7 linked regions of the Homo sapiens genome follow. The protein of the gene in region 1 purifies or fractionates together with the protein of each later gene. This does not show direct contact. Each region holds a gene or a part of one and is shown in the gene's direction. Other genes may lie near its edges. The genes, in order: PGM3, ENOPH1, OLA1, NUDT9, PUDP, BLVRA and LAP3.

Region 1 (3,500 bases):
TGAAATAGTTCCATATTTTACAATCATTTGTCAGAAGGGCACAATTTATGACAAATTCTTTACATTAGTGGGCAGAAAATTAAAAAAAGAGCAGTGGTAATACCCAGTCATTTGAACATTTGAGGCATTGGCTTTGGAACCTGAAGGTACTCTTTTCCTCCTTATACTGGCTGAGTTTTGTGATTTGAAGCTTTAGGAAGTTTTGCTTCCATCATAATTGAAACTTTGATGACAGTTCTGTGGTCACTCCATAAAAGCCCTAAATTCTAATAGGAAATCTCATCATCTGATATATTAACTGATTATGATAAGCTTAGTAATGTGAGATTTGTTTCATTTTGCTATTTTAGAAATAAATCTCAGGCTAGCTTTAAGTACACAATGTAATTGGAAATTATTATAATCTGGAAACAGCATACTTTAAGAATTTAATAGATTTTTTTTTTTTTTTTTTTTGAGACAGTGTTGCTCTGTTGCCCAGGCTGGAGTGCAGGGGCGTGATCTCGGCTCATTGCAACCTCTGCCTCCCTGGGCTCAAGCAATTCTTCTGCCTCAGCCTCCCAAGTAGCTGGGATTACAGATGCATGCCACCACACCTGGCTAATTTTTGTACTTTTAGTAGAGATGGGGTTTCACCATGTTGGCCAGGCTGGTCTCGAACTTTTGACCTCAGGTGATCCACCCACCTTGGCCTCCCAGAGTGCTGGGATTACAGGCGTGAGCCACCGTGCCTGGCCAGATACTTTTATTTAAAAAATTAAAGAGGTGAAGATCAGGAGATACAGGCTTCTTAAAAGAGGAATTCTCATAGAATTGTTTTAAATAGTGTTCAAATGTATTTTAGGCTTTTTTCCTGGCATACATGTAAATTTTCAGTCAGACATTTTTGGCATAAACTAAGGCACAACTGAACTGGCTGATAATTTTGGTAGCCTTTAGAACTCTCATTATATTTGTTTTTGTAGACCATACTTTTGATGGCAAGTTAAGTATCATTGTTTTTGTCTAGATTGGAGAAAGTTTGAATATTGGTGTTGTACAAACTGCATATGCAAATGGAAGTTCAACACGGTATCTTGAAGAAGTTATGAAGGTATTGAACCATTTTTGTTTTCTGGTAGTTTCTTAATTAAGATCATGTTTCTGTGAGAAAGATACTGCCCTCATAAAAGTGATTATGTTGTAGTGCATGAAGCTGAGCTGCTGTTCATGTAAAGGTAAAGAGAAATAAATAAGAAAAAATTTAGTTGTCCTTGATGAATAAAGGAAAACTTCTTTCCTTCCTTTTCTTGGAGTTTTCCTTTAGAAAACTTGGAATTCTTTCTCTGTGCCTTTGTAATGAATGTAAGTCTTTCTAAAGGCCTAATAAGCCAGTTTTATAGCTCAGGAATACTTTTCTTTAAGGGCCTAGAGTCACCAATTTCAAATATAAACATCAAGGAAGATAGCTCACCTATCTCCCAGTCTCAGGAGAGTTTAACTTAGGTGTTTGCGTCCAATTTGTAACTATCTACCTGTCACAGAGGTATGAAAAGTTTTATTACTCCTTTAGAGAAGGGCAGTTAACACAGGTGGCCATCCCTATTACCAAGTAAGTTTAGGATAAACTATGTGTGTGACAAATGGTGGTTTCAAGTTTTCCTATTTGAGGACTAGTGTTAAAGAAAAAATAATTCATGACACTTGTTAAAATGGTAAGGCAGACTTGATTCAGGACTGTTGTGATAGGTACAGGGACTAATGTGATGGAGTTTTGCAGTGGTAGGAGAAAGATTGGGCTCAACTCCAAATATAGTAAGGAAAAGTAGGGCTTTATAGCCAAGGAGCAGGGTGTGTGGGGGGTGGTCAGTGGATGAAAAATTACTGAGAGGAAACATGAGGGTAAGTGGGTGGTATTTTGGCTAAACTGATCTAACAGGACTTTTGCTGAAGGTAGGCCAGGGCGGTCACATATTACCTGGGGGATGGTAGAGAATGAGAACTCAGATCAGATGTCAAGAGTGGTCATGTATCAGGATGAGGGATTCTCGCTAAGCTCACTTAGCATGACTCTTATTAAAATCGGGCTATTGGAAGACATGCCTAAGGACAAGGCCTAGTCAGGCCCACCTAAACCTAACTAAAGTTTGGTCAAGGAGAGAATTTTTGTCATTAGCCATCTTTTATCTTAGCAAATTGTATTGGAATGTGTCCGCTTGGCTATATTAAAGGGTGAGCGTTTATCTTTGCTATCTCTTAGCAAATTAGCCTGTGATTGAACATCAGTTTGGCTTAATACTTATTCAGTAATAAAACTGTTTCTTACCCTTCTTTTTTTTTTGGAGAGGTTTTCTGGGGTGGTGGGAGATTCTGTTTCTAATTATTTCCCCGGTGTCCACCAGGTGACCACCCTTGGCACCACACTACTTGCTCGGAGAGTTACCAGGGTTCATGGACAAAACTGGAAGTCTGTTTGCCTATACTTTCTCATTATCGAGAAGTTTTCCAACTTTTTTGTACCTCATTTTGTACCTCGTTCTGGCATTTATACTAGTTTTAGTTACCTTTCCATTCTCTAGAAAGCAGGAATTACAAAGTCAGATTCCTGCAGGATTTGGACAGGTAAAGTGAATGAGGGCAGCAGGGGGCTAAAAACAGGTCAGTATGTGCCAGCTGATGTCAACTGTAGTCACACTCTTCAAGAGAAGCAGGAAATCTGAATTTTCATGTGATGTTCCTATTTGTTTAAAAAGAAACAGTGGCTGGGCAAAACGAAATATATCTTGAGGCTGCTAGTTTATGACCTGATTTTAATATATGGTTATAATAAGCTCATTCAAGGGATTCCATCTGGGGCCCATTTGCCTGCCTTTCACAGGGATTGGGTTATTTCACAGTACTTGGGTTATTGTTTTAGGATTTTCATTTTCTGTCTTAAAAATTTATTACAGATAAAATAACCTAGTTTAAGAAACTGTTACTTCTCAACTCACTGTCTTCCAGATGAAATATTTTTAGCCCTTGCCATTCCTGAGGTCTCCTACATCCAATCTAATGCTGATCTTTCTTTTGCAGTTTTTCTACTATCAATCTTTCCTTAACCATTCTTAAAGCTCTCTCAGATCCATCCATCCATGACTTTCCCTATTCACTATTGCTGATCCAGCCACTATTTCTTACTGGGATTAGTCCTAGAAGCCTCCTCATTCCATTTCTTAACCTTCTAATTGAACTTGCTGCTATTTGCAAACAAAGTTTTATTGGAATAGAGCTATGTTGATTTGTTTATGTATGGTCTGTGGCTGCTTTTGCACTGTAATGGCAGAGTAATTGTGACAGAGACCATATGGCCTGCAAAGCCTAAAATATTTACTGTCTGGCCTGTTACAGAAAAAGCTTGCAATTCTGCTCTAAGCTATTCTCCACACTGTAGCTAAACAGCTTTCTAAAACAGTTAGGTCATGTCACGCCCCCACTTGTAATCTTTCGTGTCTTATAAGGAGACCCTCATCTCTCTCACC
Region 2 (3,500 bases), on another chromosome or scaffold:
GTTGCAAATACTGAATTCTGCCATTGTGATGCAAAAGTAGCCACAGACATTATTTAAATAAATGAGTGTGGCTATGTTCCAATAAAACTTCATTTACAGAAATAGGCAGTGGACTTGATTTGGCCTGCAGGTTGTAGTTTGCCGACTCTTGGTCTAGTTTATTTGTTTCTTGGCCTCTGTCTCTCTTTCTTGCTCATATTCACAGCAGCAATTTTCATAGAGTTCCATTGATTTATTTGTTACAGTTATGTAGGTAAGATTGTGGAAGAACTGGATCTTTTACAACTGATAAAAGCTAACTCTTGTATTTTCTTTTACTCTTTTATCCAGGACATTTTATTTCCTTACATCGAAGAAAATGTTAAAGAGTATCTGCAGACACATTGGGAAGAAGAGGAGTGCCAGCAGGATGTCAGTCTTTTGAGGAAACAGGTTGGGACATTTCTGTCTTAAATTCCCAAGTGTCTTAGAAATGAGGGTACCTGGAGATTTAGGACATGCTCTGAGCATTTTGTAAAATAAGTGCCCTGGTTTGATAGGGGATAGAAGTTGCAGTGACTTAGTGAGTTGCCTGCTTAGGAATTCACAGTACATAATTAAAGGCTGGATCATGTCAGTTTGTTGTTTCTGGAGTTGCTCTTTGGTTGTTTTTTTTTGTTTTGTTTTGTTTTGTTTTTTTTGTTTTTTTTTGAGATGGAGTCTCACTTCGTTGCCCAGGCTGGAGTGTGGTGGTGTGATCTTAGCTCACTGCAACCTCGCTTACTGGGTTCAGGCGATTCTCCTGCCTCAGCCTCCCGAGTAGCTGGGACTACAGGCACCTGCCACCATGCCCAGCTAATTTTTTGTATTTTTAGTGGAGATTGGGTTTCACCGCATTGGACAGGCTGGTCTAGAACTCCTGATTTCAAGTGATCTACCCTCCTCGGCCTCCCAAAGTGCTGGGATTACAGGCATGAGCTTACCACCCCCAGCCCACCCAAAAAGGGCTTAAGTTTGCAAATATATGATATTGTTAGGCAATTTAAATAGCTCTAGAAAAAGGCAACTCTAGGCTGGGCACGGTGGCTCACACCTGTAATCTCAGCACTTTGGGAGGCCGAGGTGGGTGGATCACTCGAGGTCAGGAGTTTGAGACCAGCCTGGCCAAAATGGTGAAACGCTGCCTCTACTAAAAATACAAAAAATTAGGCCGGGCGCGGTGGCTCACGCCTGTAATCCCAGCACTTTGGGAGGCCGAGGCGGGCGGATCACGAGGTCAGGAGATCGAGACCATCTCGGCTAAAACGGTGAAACCCCGTCTCTACTAAAAATACAAAAAATTAGCCGGGCGTAGTGGCCGGCGCCTGTAGTCCCAGCTACTTGGGAGGCTGAGGCAGGAGAATGGCGTGAACCCGGGAGGCGGAGCTTGCAGTGAGCCGAGATCCCGCCACTGCACTCCAGCCTGGGCGACAGAGCGAGACTCCGTCTCAAAAAAAAAAAAAAAAAAAAAAAATACAAAAAATTAGCCGGACATGGTGGCGGGCACCTGTAGTCACAACTCCTTGGGAGGCTGAGGCAGGAGAATTGCTTGAACGTGGGAGGTGAAGGTTGTAGTGAGCCGAGATGGCGCCACTGCACTCTAGCCTGGGCTACAGAGCAAGACTCCGTCTCAAAAAAAAAGAGTCCTTTCTGGGTAGAATGCAAAAGGTTTTGAGCAGTCTCTACATTTTTTATTAACGTCTCTATATTAGTCTGTTCTCACATTGCTGTAAAGAAATACCTGAGAGTGGGTAATTTTTAAGAAAAGAGGTTTAATTGGCTCACAGGTCTACAGGCTATACAGGAAACATAGCGGCATCTGCTTCTGGGGAGACCTCAGGAAGCTTCTAATCATGATGGAAGGCAAAGCCGGAGCAGGCGTCTCAGATGGTGAAAGTCAGGAGCAAGAGAGTGGGGAGGGGAGGTGCTACACACTTTAAAACAACCAGAACTCACTATTGTGAGGACAGCATCAAGGAGGATGGTGCTAAACAAACCATTCACGAGAAGTCTATCCCCGCGATCCAGTCACCTCCCACTAGGCCTCACCTCCAGCACTGAGGATTACATTTCAATGTGCAATTTGGGTGGGGACACACATCCAAGCCATGTCATTCTCCATATGACAGTACTTCATCATTTTGCACTCCCTCCTTCCTTACTGCAAGCCCCTGCTGCCCCCTCTGCAGTGCTCCTGGGTCCTCACACTCACACTCCCCTTCCAGACTCCTCACCCCAGCTCACTCTGGCCCAGCCCTCATACCTCCTTTGGTCTCCTGTGCTTTGTTCTACCCTCTTCTCCCCACCAGTCATCAGTCTGTCTTTTCCTTCCACATTGTGTGCTATGGAACTCCTGCTCTGTTGTTTTTCTTGTTAAAATTGCTTCAGTGGCAAAGATCTTACATGGTCTGCAGAGCTAACTCACTGGCAGTTATTTTCTAGTTCTATATTGGATACTGTGGAATGCTCTCTGTGGATGTTTTACTGTTAGGAATTAGGATTCAAAATGTAGTTATGTCCTTTGGGCATGGAATATTTGGGATTTTAATTTTCTGGATAACTCAGGGTTAATCTGAAATACAGTGAGTCCTTACTTAATGTTGTCTTTAGGTTCTTGGAAACTAAGTGAAATGACACTTAAATTTCAATTTTCAATTTTAAACCAACCATAACAAAACCAATTTTTTCTCCACATAAATGTTATAACAAAATGATGTTGAAGGAAATGACATTACTTGAGAAGGTCATGCCACTTGAAGTCACAGTTTCCAAGAACCTTTCAATGATGTTAAATGAGGACTTACTTTACTTTCCTCCCTTACCTTTTTTTGTTGTCAAAACCTTGTTGAAACATACATACATAGTCCCCCATTATTGTATATAAATATGTACACATGTATCTTTAGAAATTGGACTGCTTTGTCACAAGGTCATTGTTCTAAGTGGCTACTAGGATTTTTGCAAGATGTGGGAGATTATAGGAGACTGAATGTGAACCAACCTCATTACTTCACTAGCTTCTTTTTGCTGAATTCCAGGCATAAACTAATTTATGAGATTTTCTTTGTTTCTTTCTCCATTAGTTATAGTGCAGAGAAAATTATCAGATTGAGTTAAAGTCCTGGTTTGTTGATCCCAGTAGTGAATCAACAAATCAAATCTTAATTCTATCATTATGTGCTCTCTCTTCTCATATACAACATGCGTCTCAGTTTAAATTTCAGCTTTTAGCAAAAGGAAAGGTAATGTAAATTTATTAATCCAGGTTCTTTTAGGAATCATTTGTATCAGCTCCAAAGTATATGATGTTTCAATTTGCAGCCATACTAGGGCTAATGATGGAGAAAGTTGTTCTGCTGGGTTTTTGGGTCTCGTTTTAAATGACTGTTTTTTGAATAAGCAAAAAACAAACATCATGTTGTTTCTGACTTAAAGGCTGAAGAGGACGCCCACCTGGATGGGGCTGTTCCTATCCCTGCAGC
Region 3 (3,500 bases), on another chromosome or scaffold:
TAGGTAGCAGATTCAGTGTGGATTTGTGAAAGTGATCAAGGGTGGCCTTTTAGATTGGTGGCAAGTAGGACAATCATGTTCTTAGGTATTCCGAGGAGCTCCTGTCATAGAGATTCCTCAATGAACAGAGCATGGCGTGACCAAGTGAGGCATGTCTTAAATTCATGTAATGTAAAACATGAGCAAGTGTGGCTGTCCTGATTTCAGTCTTTCCTGGAGCTTGAAGAGGTTTTCATTTTGAAGGGGTTTCCTGCTGTGATATAGTCTGCTTGCAGAGTAAGACTAAGTAGAGAGTTGAAATGTAAGCAAAACAAATAATTAATCAAAATACTGTAGGGTGCTATCAATAAACGTGAAAGCAAGCTATGATCATTATTTATGTTGTGAGCTTTATTGCACTAGTAAGGAAGTTAAGTTTTGAGATATTGACATACTTCTCATTCTAGAATTGTTGCAGTTACTACAACTTGATTTTAAATGGGACTATATTAAAATGGGCCATATTAAGTGTTTTCTGTACATATAGGCAACCCTCTGTATCTGTGGTTTCACATCCTTGGATTCAACCAATCTCAAATCAAAAATATTTTTTTAAAAAATTGGCTGGGCATGGTGATTCATGCCTGTAATCTCAGCACTTTGGGAGGCCGAGGTGGGTGGATCACTTGAGGTCAGGAGCTTGAAACCAGCCTGGCCAACATGGCGAAACCCCATCTCTACTTTAAAAAAACACAACAAAAATTAGCCGGACATGGTGGCAGGAGCCTGTAATTCCAGATACTCGGGAGGCTGGGGCAGGAGAAACAGCTTGAGCCCGGGGGGTGGAGGTTGCAGTGAGCCAAGGTCCCGCCACTGCACCCCAGCCTGGGTGACAGAGCGAGACTCCGTCTCAAAAAAAAAAAATTTTTTTTTAATTAAATAAAAAATGAGAATATAACAGTAAAAAAAATAGTAAACAACTATTTACCTATCATTTACATTGCATTAGGTATTATACTACACCATTGTATATAAGGGACTCAATCTGCTGGAATCTTAGAACCAATCCCCTGCAGCTATGGAGGGACGACCATAGCTTTTTAGTCATAGAGCATAATGAAATTAATGTACGTGGAAGTAACCTAAAAATATTTTATTATTCAGAATAAGTGTGTGTGCTGTTTACACTTTTAAATAAAATGCTTTCCCCTCCCAGTGTCATTGAGGTATACTTCACAAATAGTAAAATTCACTCATTTTAAAGGTACAGTTTAATGAGTTTCGGCAATTGTATTTGGTTGTAAACACTACTTTTTGTAGAATGATCTTACTTCACACAACTGTATCAGGTAGGATTCTTTGTAAGCAACACAATTCTGGCTGTTTTCAGCAGGAAAAAGAGGTTTATTGGAATAAGTGAATTACAATCTGAACAGCCAGGCCTCAAGAGGGATAAGAGCCAAGTGGTGCTGGCAGAAATGGGTCCATGTGGAGCTCAGCCATGTGAATCCCTGGATTTCTGGGTGTTTCTCATTTCCTGTCTCTCCTGTAATTCCAATTCCTGAGTAAGGAAATCCGACCGGACTTGTGTGCTTCTGTATAGATCTACAAGATATAGATTGTGGGAGGGAGACGGTTCTCTAAAGGATGGCCTGCTGATCAAAAGTAAGGACATTCAGTACAAAACCATCTAGAGAATCTCTTGGTTTTTAGCTGGGTGAATAGGAAGGCTTACTTTTTAGTCTGCATAAGGCTGATGACCCAGAAACTTAGAGGTAATATTTATAGCTAATCAGATATTGAACATTTACTATATGCCAATCGCTATTTTGAGTACTTTATATATATTATCTAATTTAATAAGTGGTTTGACATTCCCCTCCATTGCAATTTAAATTCTGTGAAGGTAGGAAGGTACCGATTGTCTCGTTCTTGCTTATTGGTATATTTCTAGTGCCTAGACTGGTGTTAGAAACATAGTAGATATTTAGTAATTATTTGTTAACGGGACACGATGGTGTTAGGAACATAGTAGATATTTAGTAATTATTTGTTAATGGGATACATATTTCCCCTTTGACGGCTGGATGTAGATTTAGTGATAAGGAGACATGTTTTTGTTTTTTGAACAAGATTTTATTCTCTTGCCCAGGCTGGAGTGCGGTGGCATGATCATGGCTCACTGCAGCCTAAATCTCCCGGGCTCAAGCAGTCCCTACTCCTCAGCCTCCTGAATAGCTGGAACTGCAGGCACACAAAACACCGTGCCTGGTTAATTTTTGTATTGTTTGTAGATGGAGTTTCACCATGCTGCCCTGAGGCTGGTTTCACAGCCTGACCAGCGTGGTGAAACCCCATCTCTACTAAAAATACAAAAATTAGCCAGGTGTGGTGGCACGCCCCTGTAATCCCAGCTACTCAGGAGGCTGAGGCAGGAGAATTGCTTCAACCTGGGAGGCGGAGGTATCAGTGAGCTGAGATCGCGCCACTGCACTCTAGCCTGGGTGACAGAGCGAGACTCCATCTGAAAAAAAAAACAACAAAAACACAAAAAAGCCTGTCTCCTTGCCCCGTGTGGTGGCTCACGCCTGCTGGAATTACAGGTGTGAGCCACCGTGCTGGGCAATTAAATGACCTCTTTTAATGAAGTAGAAAGAATATGGAGATTTGGTTTCTAGTTCTGTACTGCTTTTTCTTACCTGAGTGACCCTTTATAAATGAGCTCCTGTTGGAGCAGTGTATTATTGTGGTTGTGAGGCTTAGAGAATATTGGGGGCGAAAGTACGTTTTGATACAGTGTTCCAAACTTCTTTATTTCTGTGAGGGATAGCTCTTCTTGTTGCTATCCACTGCATCAGATGGGATTAGGTTCAATTAAGAGCATCAGAAAACCCCAGATAACCAGTTTTTTTTCTTCATGTAAAAATGTACATTTTGCAGTCATAGCTTGGTATAGTGGACCTGCTTTATGAAGTCCTCAGGAACCCATGCTCCTTTCACTTCACAGCTTGGCAATCCCTAGGATGTGGCCTCATCCTCATGGTCTAGAGCTAGGGTTCCCGAACCTCATGCTGGGGACTGGTACCGATCTGTGGCGTGTGAAGAACCAGGCTGCATGGCAGGAGGCGAGCAGCAGGCGAGTGAGCATTCCCACCTTAGCTCCACCTCCGGTCAGGTCAGCAGCAGCATTCGATTCTCAGAGGAGCGCAGGCCCTGTTGTGAACTGCGCATGCAAGAGATCTAGGTTGCACGCTCCTTATGAGAATCGAACTAATGCCTGATGATCTAAAATGGGGCAGTTTCATCCTGAAACCATCCCCCACACCCTTGGTCCGTGGAAAAATTGGCTTCCATCAGCCAATTCACGGTCCAGTCCCTGGTGCCAAAAAGGTTGGCGGCTGCTGGTCTAAGGTGTTGTGAATTCCAGGCAGCTGGTTATCCGAAGGGTCAGGGGGCCAAACTTGACTAGCAGCCTTTTTCCTGTAAACTGCCATACCATACTTCTGCCAACATCCCTTTGT
Region 4 (3,192 bases), on another chromosome or scaffold:
ACTAAGAATACAAAAAAATTAGCTGGGCGTGGTGGCAGATGCCTGTAATCCCAGGTACTCGGGGGGCTGAGGCAGGAGAATCGCTTGTACTCAGGACGCGGAGGTTGCAGTGAGCCGTGATTGTGCCACTGCACTTCAGCCTGGTCAACAACAGCGAGACTCCATCTAAAAATAAATAAAATAAAATAAAATATTTAAGTAATGTTGCCTTGAATACTTTAATAGGCTTGTCTCTATTTCATCAGAATAAATTCTTCAAAGAGGAATTACTGGATTGCTTATTGTATCTTCAGTGCCTAGTACAGTCTGGCACACAAGATGCACTCTGATATTTACAGAATGAGTGCTTGTCAAAGAAAACTTACTTTTTAAAAGCTCTTGATAAACATTGCCAAATTTCCTACAGAAATATTCCATTTATATTCCCAGCAGTGATTGGGAGCACTTATTTTTTATTTTTTTGATAATTTAAATTTTTTTTTTTTTTTTTTGAGGTGGAGTCTCACCCTGTTGCCAGGCTGGAGTGCAGTGGTGTGATCTTGGCTCACTGCAACCTCCACCTCATGGATTCAGACAATTCTCTTGCCTCAGCCTCCCAAGTAAGCTGGGACTGCAGGCATGTGCCACCACTCCTGGCTAATTTTTGTATTTTTAGTAGAGATGGGGTTTCACCATGTTGGCCAGGCTGGTCTCGAACTCCTGACCTCAGGTGATCTACCCGCCTCAGCTTTGTTTATTTTTTTACATTTAAATCTCTCATCCCTCTTGGACTGATTTTGATGTAAGGTTTCATATTCATGTAATATAATCTCGTTTTTAAGGATAATCTTTTTAGAGAAAACTCTTTGTGTTTATCTAAAATTTAGGGACTTGGTTAAAATTTGGACATTTTGGAATACTCTAGTTTTTTTTCTTTTATTCATTCTGCTGACCAGGGATGGAATGGTCTAGTTTTTAATTCACTTGGCCGGCTAGTACAATGATGATATAAGATTATTTTAAATAAGAATACTTGACGACATAGATATGCTAAAACAGAAATGAGTTTTTCTTGGTGATGGTTTTTCTTTGGCAACCAGGTGAGATAATGGATAATCTTATGCTAGAAGCTGGAGATGATGCTGGAAAAGTGAAATGGGTGGACATCAATGATAAACTGAAGCTTTATGCCAGTCACTCTCAATTCATCAAACTTGTGGCTGAGAAACGAGATGCACACTGGAGCGAGGACTCTGAAGCTGACTGCCATGCGTTGTAGCTGATGGTCTCCGTGTAAGCCAAAGGCCCACAGAGGAGCATATACTGAAAAGAAGGCAGTATCACAGAATTTATACTATAAAAAGGGCAGGGTAGGCCACTTGGCCTATTTACTTTCAAAACAATTTGCATTTAGAGTGTTTCGCATCAGAATAACATGAGTAAGATGAACTGGAACACAAAATTTTCAGCTCTTTGGTCAAAAGGAATATAAGTAATCATATTTTGTATGTATTCGATTTAAGCATGGCTTAAATTAAATTTAAACAACTAATGCTCTTTGAAGAATCATAATCAGAATAAAGATAAATTCTTGATCAGCTATAACTTCTGTTTCATCTAGTTCTTGTTTGTCAATGCCTTCCCTCCCGCTCCCCATCTTCTGAGGCCTGAAGGATGTTCCTGCCACATCAAACTCCTTTAGGCAGAGTACCGCCACTGGATGTATAGTTTAATGTTTCATCTGATTTTTCTTTAAATTATTTCCTTCACATTTTGCTTCACATGATCTTGTTGAAGCTAATTTTGAAAATGGAAACTATGTTTTCTTGACTTTAGAAGCATTAGTTTTAAGAGGAAATTTCAGCCACTAGTCAATAGAGATCAAAATCAGTGAACAAGAGCTGATACTCTCATTTTCAAAAATTCTGAATTAAAAAAAGTCCAGGAAGTTAGTAATTTAAATCAGTATGTTCATTTCACTCTAGTGAAACTACTATATGTTGTAAATTAGTTAAAAATGGATGTTCAGAAAAGAATTGAAATCAGGACAAAAAATTACAGATGCTAGTGAGGTTGTAGAGAAAAAGGAATGCTTATACGCTGTTAGTGGGAGTGTAAATTGGTCCAACCATTGTGGAAGAGAGTGTAGAGAGTCCTCAAATATTTAAAGATATTTGACCCAGTAATCCCATTACTAGGTATATACCCGAAGGAATATAAATTGTTCTATTATAAACACATACTCACGTGTATGTTCATTGCTGCACTATTCACAATAGCGAAGACATGAAATCAACCTAAATGTTCATCAGTGATAGACTGGATAAAGACAATGTGGTATATGTACACCATGGAATACTATGCAGCCGTAAAAAAGAATAAGATCATGTCCTCTGAAAAGACATGGGTGGAGCTGGAGGCCATTATCCTTAGCAAACTAATGCAAGAACAGAAAACCAAACACTGCATGTTCTCTTATAAGTGAGAGCTAAATGGTGAGAACACATGGACATGGGAACAACACATTCTGGGGTCTATTGGAGGGTGGGAGGAGGGAGAGGATCAGGAAAAATAACTAATGAGTACTAGGCTTAATACCTTGGTGATGAAATTATCTGTACAACAAACCCTCATGACACAAGTTTACCTATGTAACAAACCTGCACATGTACCCCTGTACTTAACAACAAAATAAACACAAAGGAAAATGTTAGCCATGTGTGAATTTTAAACTTCTTGGTAGTCACATTAAAAATAAAAAGAAACAAGTAAAATGGTTTGTAATTATTTAATCCATTATATCCAAAATATCTTAATATGTGATCAATATATAATTATTAAGTAATTATTTTGGTTCTATAAAAACAGGAACAGAGGTGGAGGTCTCTGTGAGTTAGTGTTTTTTTGTTAGGAAAGAAATGTTAAAGATTGAAATAGATTTTTGAGAAAAGCATGGTTAATGTTATAAATCCCAGAGGAAAGGAGGGGGTTGGTGCTTTGGGGGTTTTTGGAAGCAAGGAAAAGGAAAGAAAAGTAGTACTGCCTTGTCTTAGTGGACATGTTTATCTCATTCTGGCTAAGGATCTCTGTTGGAAAGCCCTGTGATAGGAACTCCTATCCACCTAAGTAGGGTTGGGCTATAGCTGGAGCATCTCAGGAAAAGCTTTAGGGGAGACAGACATTATTGTTTTCTTTCCTTCAGATGTTTGAAAA
Region 5 (3,500 bases), on another chromosome or scaffold:
GACATTAAATCATGACATTATTAAAATAGGCATGATTATACAATTATTTAAAATAATTTTAGGCCAGGCGTGGTAGCTCATGCCTGTAATCCCAGTACTTTGAGAGGCTGAGGCAGGCGAATCACCTGAGGTCAGGAGTTTGAGACCAGCCTGGCCAACATGGTGAAACCCCATCTCTACTAAAAATACAAAAATTAGCTGGGCGTGGTGGCACATGCCTGTAGTCCCAGCTACTCTGGAGGCTGAGGCAGGAGAATCGCTTGAACCTGGGAGGCCGAGGTTGCAGTGAGCCAAGATCAGCCATTGCACTCCAGCCTGGGCAACAGAGTGAGACCCTGTCTGAAAAATAAAATGAAATTTTAGGCAAACCGTCACACCTTGTGTGGATTTAGATGTTCCTGTTGTGCTAGTCGCATAAGTTAAAGGTAGGAAGGACTCCTGGTATTTTTGATTCTTTCTGATAACTAGTCCTCTCATGATTGGCTCTATGATGACCTCCATGGACCTGTGTGGTCCCTGTAGTTAATCCGTGTGGCTAATGACAGTGTGAGGATGCTCTTTTCATATGGCACGTTGCTGTTGATCAGCTGTGTTCAGCAGCTTTCTTTTGTCCCCTGATCCCTTGTTAAGTAGCGCTGCAGCAGTCCCTCAGCCACAGCCTTCTTCAGCATCTGGTGGACGCCTTTGTGTAATTTCCTCTCCTTAGCAGGGTGAAGAATGATTGAAGTGTTTTCTGTAGAATACAGCATTTTTGCAGAAAACACCAAAAGCATAGTCCTTGTGTATTTACTGCTCTGGAAAAAAAAGTATGGTTCAGCGAGGCCCTGCTGAAGGGCCTTCCCCGGTGCCCTGGCCAGATCCCAGGTCCAGTCACCTCCTGGGCCTGCTCTCTGCCCTTCTCCACGTTTCATAAGGAGGCCCAGCAGGCAAAGCAGCAGTGCCTCCCAGTGCGCTCTTCTTCTGTTCCTTTGGGAAACGTATCGCTCAACCGCCAATAGCTTTTTTGATTTTTTGGTTTGTTTTATTTGAGCAGGGATGTTGTGGAGCTGACAACCGCTTTTAGACAATCTGTCCTAGGTCAGAAATTCCTCAAAAGGAGCAGCCTGAGAGTGTGCTGCCACACAGCTGGAGGGACTGTCCCTGCAAGAAGGTCTTATGGTGGAGGCCTCGCCCCTCACCTCAGTCCTTCCCTCCTCCTCCCCAGGGGCGGAGAAACTCATCATCCACCTGCGGAAACATGGCATCCCCTTTGCACTGGCCACCAGCTCGGGGTCCGCGTCGTTCGATATGAAGACAAGCCGCCACAAGGAGTTCTTCAGCTTGTTTTCCCACATTGTGCTGGGAGATGACCCCGAAGTGCAGCATGGCAAGCCAGACCCGGACATCTTCCTAGCTTGTGCCAAGAGGTTCTCTCCCCCTCCTGCTATGGAGAAGGTAAGTGGGTGCCGGTGACACGGGCCGTGTTCCACAACCATGTTCCACCAAATAATATCCATGTAGTGTTTGCTAAATGTGAAAAGTTGTGGTTTGTGCTGTTGAAGGCCACTTTGCAATGCTCCCTAGAACTTGGGTATGTGGGCAGGGAGATGGTCTGGTTGGAAGATTTTGTGAGGAATCGTGGCCGCACCTAAGTCACCAGGCCAGGGAGACTCAGCCAGAATCCACTGGGTCTCAGGGACAATCTGAGAAGCTTACAGTGCCAGAACAAGGCCTATTCAGACATTTTCCAGGGAAGCGGCGGTTTTAATGATGTGGGGCTTAAAACAGTCTTATTGTCTAGGTGCAGGCTTTAAGGTGAGTATTCACTGCAGTTCAGATGTAAATCACTAAAACTCACTTCCCCTCCCCAACTGCTTATAGAGTGCTCGTTGGTTGCTGCAGTTTTTGCTTGTGTAGTGACGCTGGGTTTTTATCGCCAAGTTTTTGGACTTCCATCCATTTCTCCATTGGAAAGTGGCAGCTGGTGGGCTTGTATGCCGTGGCACCCCCTGTCCCGCACCACGGCTGCTTGACCATGCAGGGTATGCAGTGGAGACGGCCCCTGGCTCCCTCTTCTTGTTAAATAAGGCTCCTCCTCAGGTGACCTGGGCAGAGCGTTTAGAGAGCCGACCGCTTGTGGTGGCTGGGCCTGGCTCCAGATTCCTCTGACCGTTCTGTGACTGCCAAGATGGAGTCCTTGGCCTGAACGATCTGCAGGTACAGATTCCAGAATCACAGGAAGTCACCCTTGAAAGGGGGGCTCCCGCTGGCGATGTAAGTGTAAGCAGCTGGGGAGGGCATCCGTCGGGGAGTCTCTGCAAATGCCTGCTTCCCCTGGGTTCCTGCATGTGAGGACTTTTGTGGTTTGTGGGGAAGAGCCTTTCAGTGAGAGGTCTTTTTCAGGCCTCACCTCTCATTACTAACCAGTGACACCAATCACGAGCTCAGGGAAATTACTCAGAAACCTTCCCAATAAAGCGGAGCTACCGGAGTAGTCTTGAAAGACCTGTTTTTTGTTGTTGTTGTTTTGTTTTGTTTTGTTTTTTGCCCAGGGTGCAACTTACTACCTTGAGCCTATAGAGGCAGCCGGAACCTGTGCCTCAGTACACAGGCCTCTGATTCTCTGAAGCTAAGTGGGCATCCAGCAATTCAGTTCAGTTCTGACACTGACTCCTACGGTTAGCCCAGACCCCGAAGGTTAAGGCCCCAGTCCCACAAGACGCCCATTGCACGTTCCAGGGGCCACCTGTACTTCTGATTGGCTACAAATTGGGGGTTCCTGCAATCCTCTCTTCAGGTCTAATAATCCCCTAACATGACTGACAGAGCTCAGGAAAACACTTTCATACACTTGCTGCTTTGTTATGAAGGATAAAACTCAGGGACAGCCAAATGGAAGCAAGGCATTGGCCAATGTATGGCGGGTGGTTGCAATGCTCCCCTGCCCTCTCTGGGCACCTGACCCTCCCAGCACCTCCATGTGCTCACCAAACTCAAAGCTCCCCAGGCCCCTTATGTAGAGGTTTTTATGGAGCTTTCTTACGTAGGTGTGAGTGATGACATCACTGACGATTGCTCATTGAACTCAATCCAGGCCAAGGTGCCCTCCCTGGAGATGAGGGGGAGGGCTGAAAGTTCCAGTCTTGTTTGTTTGTTTGTTTGTTTGTTTTGAGATGGAGTCTCGTTCTGTTGCCCAGGTTGGAGTGCAGTGGCATGATCTCGGCTCACTGCAACCTCCACCTCCCGGGTTCAAGCGATTCTCCTGCCTCACCCTCCTGAGTACCTGGGATTACAGGCGTGTGCCATCACGCCTGGCTAATTTTTCTATTTTTAGTAGAGACAGGGTCTCATCATGTTGGCCAGGCTGGTCTTGAACTCCTGACCTCGTGATCCACCCGCCTCAGCCTCCCAAAGTGCTGGGATTACAGGCGTGAGCCACCGTGCCCAGACCTAATCTTCTAATCGCATATTTGGTCTTTCTGATGTCCAGACCCTGTCCTAAAGCTATCCTGGGTCCACTA
Region 6 (3,500 bases), on another chromosome or scaffold:
GAGTCACTGCAGCCTGAGCTGTTATTTGTCATTATGCAATAATTCAGGAACTAACTCAAGATTCTTCTTTTTAAATTATTTGTTTATTTAGAGACAGAGTCTTGCTCTGTTGCCCAAGCTGGAGTGCAGTGGTGTGATCTCGGCTCACTGCAACCTCTGCCTCCTGGGTTCAAGCAATTCTCATGTCTCAGCCTCCCGAATAGCTGGTATTACAGGCTCGTGCCACCACCCCCTGCTAATTTTTGTAATTTTAGTAGAGACACGGTTTCACCATGTTGGCCAGGCTCGTCTTGAACTCCTGGCCTCAAGTGATCCGCCCGCCTCGGCCTCCCAAAGTGCTAGGATTACAGCCGTGAGCCTCCACACCCGGCCTATTTATTTATTTTTAAATTGGCTGCTCTTAGAAAGGCATACCATGTTTCTGGATGGGAAGGCTTATTAATTCACCCTAATTTAATGTATAAATTTGATGCAATCATAGTCACAGTCCCAGTGGAATTTTTTAACTTGGTAAGATGTTCTAAAATTAATGAGAGAACTTGAATTACCAGGTATTGAAACACTGTAAAGCCACAATCATGTAAACAGTATGTTATAACCATGGGAATAGAGGTCTGTGATACAGCAGAAAAAAGTGAAAAAAAGAATAACTGTATTCATAAAAATTTAAATGTGGAGTCACTGGGGGAAAGGATTAAATATTCGATAATGTAGAAACAACTCAACTATTTGGAGAAATGTAAATTTAGAGCCTTATCTCATGCCATATACCAAAATACTATTTAGATTTGATTAAAAAATAAAAATGTAAATAAAGAAAAGTTAAGGCAAGGCGTGGTAGCTCATGCCTGTAATCCCAGCATTTTGGGAGGCCGAGGTGGGTGGATCACCTGAGGTGAGGAGTTCCAGACCAGCCTGGCCAACATGGCGAAACCCCATTTCTACTAAAAATAATTAGCGTGGTGGTGTGGTGGTAGGCGCCTGTAATCCCAGCTACTCAGGAGGCTGAGGTGGGAGAATGGCTTGAACCTGGGAGGCAGAGGTTGCAGTGAGCCGAGATCCCACCATTGCACTCCAGCCTGAGTGACAAGAGTGAAACTCTGTCTCAGGGAAAAAAAAAAAAAAAAAAGTTAAAAATCTAAAAGAAAATAAAAATGTATCTATTTAATATAAGTCTTTTGGGAAAATATTTCTCAGCATAATACTAAAAGTTAGAAAATAGAATGTTTTTGTGTTTGACCATTTAAATAGTACACCTTTGAAATTTAAATAAAAAAAGGAAAACTAAACAAACCAAAACCTTTTTGTTACAGGATTAGGTCTTAGATATTTTAAGATATATTAAAATACAGAATAAAGTTCCTCCTTGATTCTGTTCAGAGTTTAACTAGTCCTGGCCAGACAATGGGGAGGAAAGGAGAGGGAGCTGTGTGATGGGCAGGCAGAGAGTTGGAAGGTGGAGCCAGATCTCGCTTGGCCTGGGATTGCTGCCTCTCCTGACGGTGCATCTTATCGTAAGGGGGAGTTGAAAGCAGAAGGGGAAACAGCACAGAAAGGATCTGTCTGGCCGTTACAGTTATGTGACCATGGCAGGTCCTGCCAGTCACTCACAGCTCTGTGAGCAACTAGCTGGGGTACCCCAGCTGAATGTGCTTTAAAAACAGCAATGTGGCCAGGTGCAGTGGCTCATGCCTGCAGTCTCAGAACTTTGGGAGGCCGAGGCAGGAGGATCACTTGAACCCAGGAGTTCGACGTTGCAGTGAGCTGTGATCATGCGTGCCACTGCATTCCAGTCTGTGTTAAAGAACAAAACCCTGACCCTGAAAAATAAACAAATAAACAGCAATGCCACTTATTCTAGGTGGTACACCCCTGATGCCCAGTGTACGAGTTCCATTTAGGCTTCTTTCTCGTGCATATGCATCTCTCCACATCCTTTCGTTTGTTTGTTTTCTTTTGTTTTGCTTTCCCCAGATTATGTAGGAAAACAATAAAGTTCATAAGTAATGTTCTGTAGGCCACTTTTATAGGAAAACTTTCCTCTAAGATCTCATTAGAAAAGAAAAGCAAGTAGCCTGCCACCGAGCACCTGTGCCAGCACAACTACACTGTGGAGCACCCAGATAAAGTGGCGCTGAACGCACTGCAGCCTCCTAAGTTCGGAAAAGAAAGCTCATTAGCATCTACACTGAAGACGCTCCTGTTCTTCACAGCTTTAATGATCACTGTTCCTATCGGGTTATTTATATTTCACAACTAAATCTTATATATCTGGAGGCGCCCTTGGGATATCCAATAAGGACAGCTGTTTTTATGCTGCTATTGTTGCCGTGGTCACCGGCCATGTGGTGCTGGCCCTCTTTATGTATGTGGTCTGGAATGAAGGCTCATGACAGTGACATGAAGGCAAACAGGATTAAAGTGAACATCACCTTTTGATAGCATTAAATTCATTTTTTAAAATGATAAATGCTGGAGGGGGGACATCTGATTTGAATAAAATTGAAAGAACATGTTAAAGTCAGTCTTAAGGAGTCATGTTTGAGTAGTGTAAATTTTGATCCTCCTAATATGTTGTTTGTATATTCAGTTTTAACTATATGAATCTCATTTGCAAATGAGAATTTGGAAAAGTTAAATTAGTTACAAATAGATATGTTAATTACAAAAAAAAAAGAAAGGGAGAGCAAGTAGTAGTGAGATTTCTGCAAGGTCAAAGGACTCAGGGCAGTTTCTTCTGAATGTAGTTTGGGGGCTGGAGAAAGAAATAGGAAGCAGTAGAATTGCTAGGTCAGATTGGAATTTTAAGAGCTATTGCTGCACTACCCTCCACAGAGATGCTACCCACTTGTAGTCCCCCAATAATATCAGAGTGTATTCCTGACCACACTTTAACCAACACACTCTGGCAAACATTTTGATCTGTCAGTCAGATAGGCCTTCTTGCTATAATCAGAATTTACATTCTGTGATCATGACTGAGGGTATCATTCTGCCTGTTATAAGAGTTACCTGAATTTCCTTTTCTGGGAACCAGAGAGCAATTTAGAGCTGGAGCAGACCTTGGAGATGAAGTCCAACCATTCAGCCTACAGCCTATGACCCGTTTGACCGTCGTTGTTGCTTGGGTAGTTCAGGACTGACAGGACTGGACACCAGGTCTCCTGTTTATCCTTGAAGCTCTCTGGGTGAATGTAAGACAGGACCTGTCAAGGCCTCTGGCACAGCCTGGGTTTGAGTCTAGAACCAGAAAGTCTGGAAATTGCAGGGCAGTGCCGCAGTGCCTTGGCTGTGAAGCAGGGTGCTTTACCCTCCCTGAACTCCAGGCACTTCGTCTGTAAAATGGAATTAATACTAGCTTTTTTTTTTGCCAGGGTTCTGAGGATTAGGGTTAATGTGTATGAACTAGCTGACCCAGAGAGGCTCACATCTGTTCTCATCCTCCTCACATTTGGGTGTTCTGTTATCTGTTATCTGTTCTGTCACTGTTCTGTTATCTG
Region 7 (3,500 bases), on another chromosome or scaffold:
ATAGGAATTAGAGAGCAGAACTTCCAGAAGAGGCCTGCAGATAAATGTGGCAGGTGGACAGAAGAAAAACTTCAAATACAACAGCGTGTTCCCTTTGTCCATGGGGTTTACCCATGTTATTTTTCTTCTTTGAGCCAGGGGATCATCTTTAATTCTTGGTGAACATGCCAACCATCTAAGTAACAAGTGCTTCTGAGGTAAGTGAGAATTAGGATTTAATTTTGAAGGAAAGCAGACTTCAGAGCAGCAGGCAGACCTCTCTCCAGTGAGCCACCAGGGCACATGAGCAGCAGATCTCAATTAGAACTTAGAGTCGAAGCCCCTGGCTCTGTGCTTGGCCTGTGAAGCATGTTGCTTCTGGACTCCTACGGACTGGAAGCAGAAAAACCACTAGCTAGTTAGAAGCCTCTGGGGGTCAGGTAGTTTGGTTTCTTGCTAATTGCAGCCTTATTCAGTTCTCATGTTGAAGTACTGTCTCTCAGCCATTGGGCCTGTGCCTCATTTAGGTTGTATTTTGCCATCAGCAGGATATAGCACACCTTGTGCAGTGTTGGAAGGAAATGTTAGCCCTCTGTCCTGTCGGTTTCAGAGAAATGCCTCCAGTCATCTCTGTGAGCTCATCAGCTTTTCTTAACAGCTCATGACCTTCACGTTCCATAAGTTGATCAATTCATAAAATTTGCTGAATAGACTATGTGGGTGTCAGGAGTTAATCAGACAATACAGAGATGGAATTTGCACAGTCTTGATTTTATGATATAGTAATGTTTCCAGTGGCACTGTTTAAATTTCATTCAAGTAGAAATAAAATGAGCTAAAGGCTGGGCGCGATGGCTAATGCCTGTAATCCCAGCACTTTGGGAGGCCGAGGCTGGCGGATCACGAGGTCAGGAGATCGAGACCATCCTGGCTAACAAGGTGAAACCCCATCTCTACTAAAATCACAAAAAAATTAGCCAGGCATGGTGGCAGCTGGGACTACAGGCGCCCACCACCACACCCGGCTAATTTTTTTGTATTTATAGTAGAGATGGGTTGCACCGTGTTAGCCAGGATGGTCTCGATCTCCTGACCTCGTGATCCGCCCACCTCGGCCTCCCAAAGTGCTGGGATTACAGGCGTGAGCCACCGTGCCCATCTGTACTTTTTAAATAAAGTGATTTTGGCCATCTTCTTTGCTCTTAATATTGCACGTTGTCCATTTCCCCATAGTGGTGGTATCTCCATCAAGGCTTCTGCAAATATGGACCTCATGAGGGCTGACATGGGAGGAGCTGCAACTATATGCTCAGCCATCGTGTCTGCTGCAAAGCTTAATTTGCCCATTAATATTATAGGTAAGTGGGGTAACGGATTACATCTCATAACGCTTCTGGATTCTAGCCAGGTGGGAGAAGAGAGACAACAGATATGATTTCCCCTAATCTGAAAAGATAAGAAATGATTTTTAAATAGTCATCAAGCAGTAGCTATTTAGCCCAGATAAGTGTTTTACTGTCTGAGCTGATTGAGCTAAATGTATCTTGCAACCAGTGGGCTGTAACTGGAATTGATTTGTTTCACTTCTGCAAAAAGTGGCTAGCAGTCAGGGGCACATAATGTCAAGTTTGTAGTTGACATTATGAAACTTGCTGGGTACTTGGGGTGGCAGGACGTTGCTGGCTCATTGACTGATTGCTTCGTAGGATTGTGGCCGGTGAAATGGCACAACACACAGAAAGTGCCTAGAACAGAAAAAGTGCTCATTATGTGGCAGTTCTTAGTAATGGAAGATACAAACTCCCAGGCACAGTACTGGGAGTTTGTATAATAGCATTGCTCATACTCATTTCAGAGGAGACGGGGAAGGAGGAGAGAGTCTTAGGTTAAATAATAATGCCCTGACTCTTGTCCATTGCACAAGGAAGGTAGAATTGGAATCCAGGTCTCAGACATGCCCCCCTCCTTCACTATCATAGTCCTTTTTTTTCCTGAACTATTTAAAAGTCAGTTGCAGACATCACGACACGTCCTCTAAGAAAAAGGACATTCTATGTAATGACAAAACCATTATCTTTTCCGAGGATTAATTCAGTAACCTAATTCAAGTTTCCAGTTGTGTAAAAAATGTCCATTTTATTTATTTATATTTAGGTTTTTTTGGTTTTTTGGTTTTTTTTGAGATGGAGTTTCGCTCTTGTTGCCCAGGCTGGAGTGCAATGGCGCGATCTTGGCTCACCACAACCTCCACCTCCCGGGTTCAAGTGATTCTTCTGCCTCAGCCTCTTGAGTAGCTGGGATTACAGGCATGCGCCACCATGCCTGGTTAATTTTGTATTTTTAGTAGAGACGGGGTTTCTCCATGTTGATCAGGCTGGTCTTGAACTCCTGACCTCAGGTGATCTGCCCGCCTTGGCCTCTCAAAATGCTGGGATTACAGGCATGAGCCACCGCGCCTGGCCTATATTTAGCTTTTAAATCCAGAAACTAATCAAGGACCACACATTGCTGTTGGTGCCCCTTTAGATTTCTTGATTCTAGACCCTATTCCTGTTTTCTTCCACGGCATTAGCAGTTTTGAAGGGTCTAGGCTTGTTTCATGATATTCTGCAATTTGTATTTATTTGAATTGCTTCTTCTTGATTAGAATCAAGTTAGACTTCTTTGGGAAGAATGCTACATGGGTGATGTGTACTTCTTGTTGCTGACACATCATGTCAGTTGTGTCATTGGTGATGTTAAATTTGATCAGTTCGTTAAGGTGGCCTTTGTGTCTTGCTTCTCATGGCTCACAGGTGGCCTCTTGTCCCATAGGTGGCATGTTTGGACCCAGTATATACTGTGTGCCTTCATATATTATTTCCAATAGGTCTGGCCCCTCTTTGTGAAAATATGCCCAGCGGCAAGGCCAACAAGCCGGGGGATGTTGTTAGAGCCAAAAACGGGAAGACCATCCAGGTTTGTAAATGTGAGACACAGCACTCCCCATCCAGCGTTCCTCAGGAATCCCGTGGTGGCCACATAACCACAGCTAGGATGCGTGCAGAGCCCCAGAACCATATTAGGGGAGGGTGCTGTCTTTAGTGCTGGGTAGCCTTTCTTTTCCTTCCCTTTCCTGAAATGGGGTCTCGCTGCATCACCCAGGCTGTAGTGCAGTGGCGTGATCATGTCTCACTGCAGCCTTGACCTCCCCAGGCTCAGGTGGTCCTCACACCTTAGCGACCTGAGTAGCTGGGACCACAGGTGCGTGCCACCATGCCTGGCTAGCTTTTTGTAGACACAGGGTTTTGCCATGTTTCCCAGGCTGGTCCCAAACTCCTAGACTCAAGTGATCTGCCCACCTTGTTCTCCCAAAGTGCTAGGATTACAGGCGCGAGCCACCATTCCCGGCCCCTGAGTAGCTTTTCTTGCAAAGGCAGAAGTATCTTTTTTGGGGGATTTTGAAGAATGTTTTTCCAGACTTATTGTTCCTCCCATTTCCTGTATGCTATACATGTGTATACACACGTTTCCATGAATTT

Evidence for each region.
Region 2: the proteins of PGM3 (region 1) and ENOPH1 fractionate together in Homo sapiens (co-fractionation; one large-scale study listed by BioGRID). This does not show direct contact.
Region 3: the proteins of PGM3 (region 1) and OLA1 fractionate together in Homo sapiens (co-fractionation; one large-scale study listed by BioGRID). This does not show direct contact.
Region 4: the proteins of PGM3 (region 1) and NUDT9 fractionate together in Homo sapiens (co-fractionation; one large-scale study listed by BioGRID). This does not show direct contact.
Region 5: the proteins of PGM3 (region 1) and PUDP fractionate together in Homo sapiens (co-fractionation; one large-scale study listed by BioGRID). This does not show direct contact.
Region 6: the proteins of PGM3 (region 1) and BLVRA fractionate together in Homo sapiens (co-fractionation; one large-scale study listed by BioGRID). This does not show direct contact.
Region 7: the proteins of PGM3 (region 1) and LAP3 fractionate together in Homo sapiens (co-fractionation; one large-scale study listed by BioGRID). This does not show direct contact.

What each region holds. Positions count from the first base shown.
Region 1 is NC_000006.12:83,176,266-83,179,765, reverse strand, and holds part of PGM3 (phosphoacetylglucosamine mutase), read left to right. Parts: intron 1-1,009; coding exon 1,010-1,093; intron 1,094-3,500. UniProt on the Homo sapiens protein: Catalyzes the conversion of GlcNAc-6-P into GlcNAc-1-P during the synthesis of uridine diphosphate/UDP-GlcNAc, a sugar nucleotide critical to multiple glycosylation pathways including protein N- and O-glycosylation.
Region 2 is NC_000004.12:82,447,590-82,451,089, forward strand, and holds part of ENOPH1 (enolase-phosphatase E1), read left to right. Parts: intron 1-330; coding exon 331-432; intron 433-3,453; coding exon 3,454-3,500. UniProt on the Homo sapiens protein: Bifunctional enzyme that catalyzes the enolization of 2,3-diketo-5-methylthiopentyl-1-phosphate (DK-MTP-1-P) into the intermediate 2-hydroxy-3-keto-5-methylthiopentenyl-1-phosphate (HK-MTPenyl-1-P), which is then dephosphorylated to form the acireductone 1,2-dihydroxy-3-keto-5-methylthiopentene (DHK-MTPene).
Region 3 is NC_000002.12:174,242,033-174,245,532, reverse strand, and holds part of OLA1 (obg-like ATPase 1), read left to right. Parts: intron 1-3,500. UniProt on the Homo sapiens protein: Hydrolyzes ATP, and can also hydrolyze GTP with lower efficiency. Has lower affinity for GTP.
Region 4 is NC_000004.12:87,456,764-87,459,955, forward strand, and holds the end of NUDT9 (ADP-ribose pyrophosphatase, mitochondrial isoform a precursor), read left to right. Parts: intron 1-1,079; coding exon 1,080-1,258; 3' UTR 1,259-2,692; downstream 2,693-3,192.
Region 5 is NC_000023.11:7,075,154-7,078,653, reverse strand, and holds part of PUDP (pseudouridine-5'-phosphatase), read left to right. Parts: intron 1-1,204; coding exon 1,205-1,434; intron 1,435-3,500. UniProt on the Homo sapiens protein: Dephosphorylates pseudouridine 5'-phosphate, a potential intermediate in rRNA degradation. Pseudouridine is then excreted intact in urine.
Region 6 is NC_000007.14:43,765,180-43,768,679, forward strand, and holds part of BLVRA (biliverdin reductase A), read left to right. Parts: intron 1-2,074; exon of another isoform or gene 2,075-2,524; intron 2,525-3,500. UniProt on the Homo sapiens protein: Reduces the gamma-methene bridge of the open tetrapyrrole, biliverdin IXalpha, to bilirubin with the concomitant oxidation of a NADH or NADPH cofactor. Does not reduce bilirubin IXbeta.
Region 7 is NC_000004.12:17,594,198-17,597,697, forward strand, and holds part of LAP3 (cytosol aminopeptidase), read left to right. Parts: intron 1-1,212; coding exon 1,213-1,337; intron 1,338-2,848; coding exon 2,849-2,937; intron 2,938-3,500. UniProt on the Homo sapiens protein: Cytosolic metallopeptidase that catalyzes the removal of unsubstituted N-terminal hydrophobic amino acids from various peptides.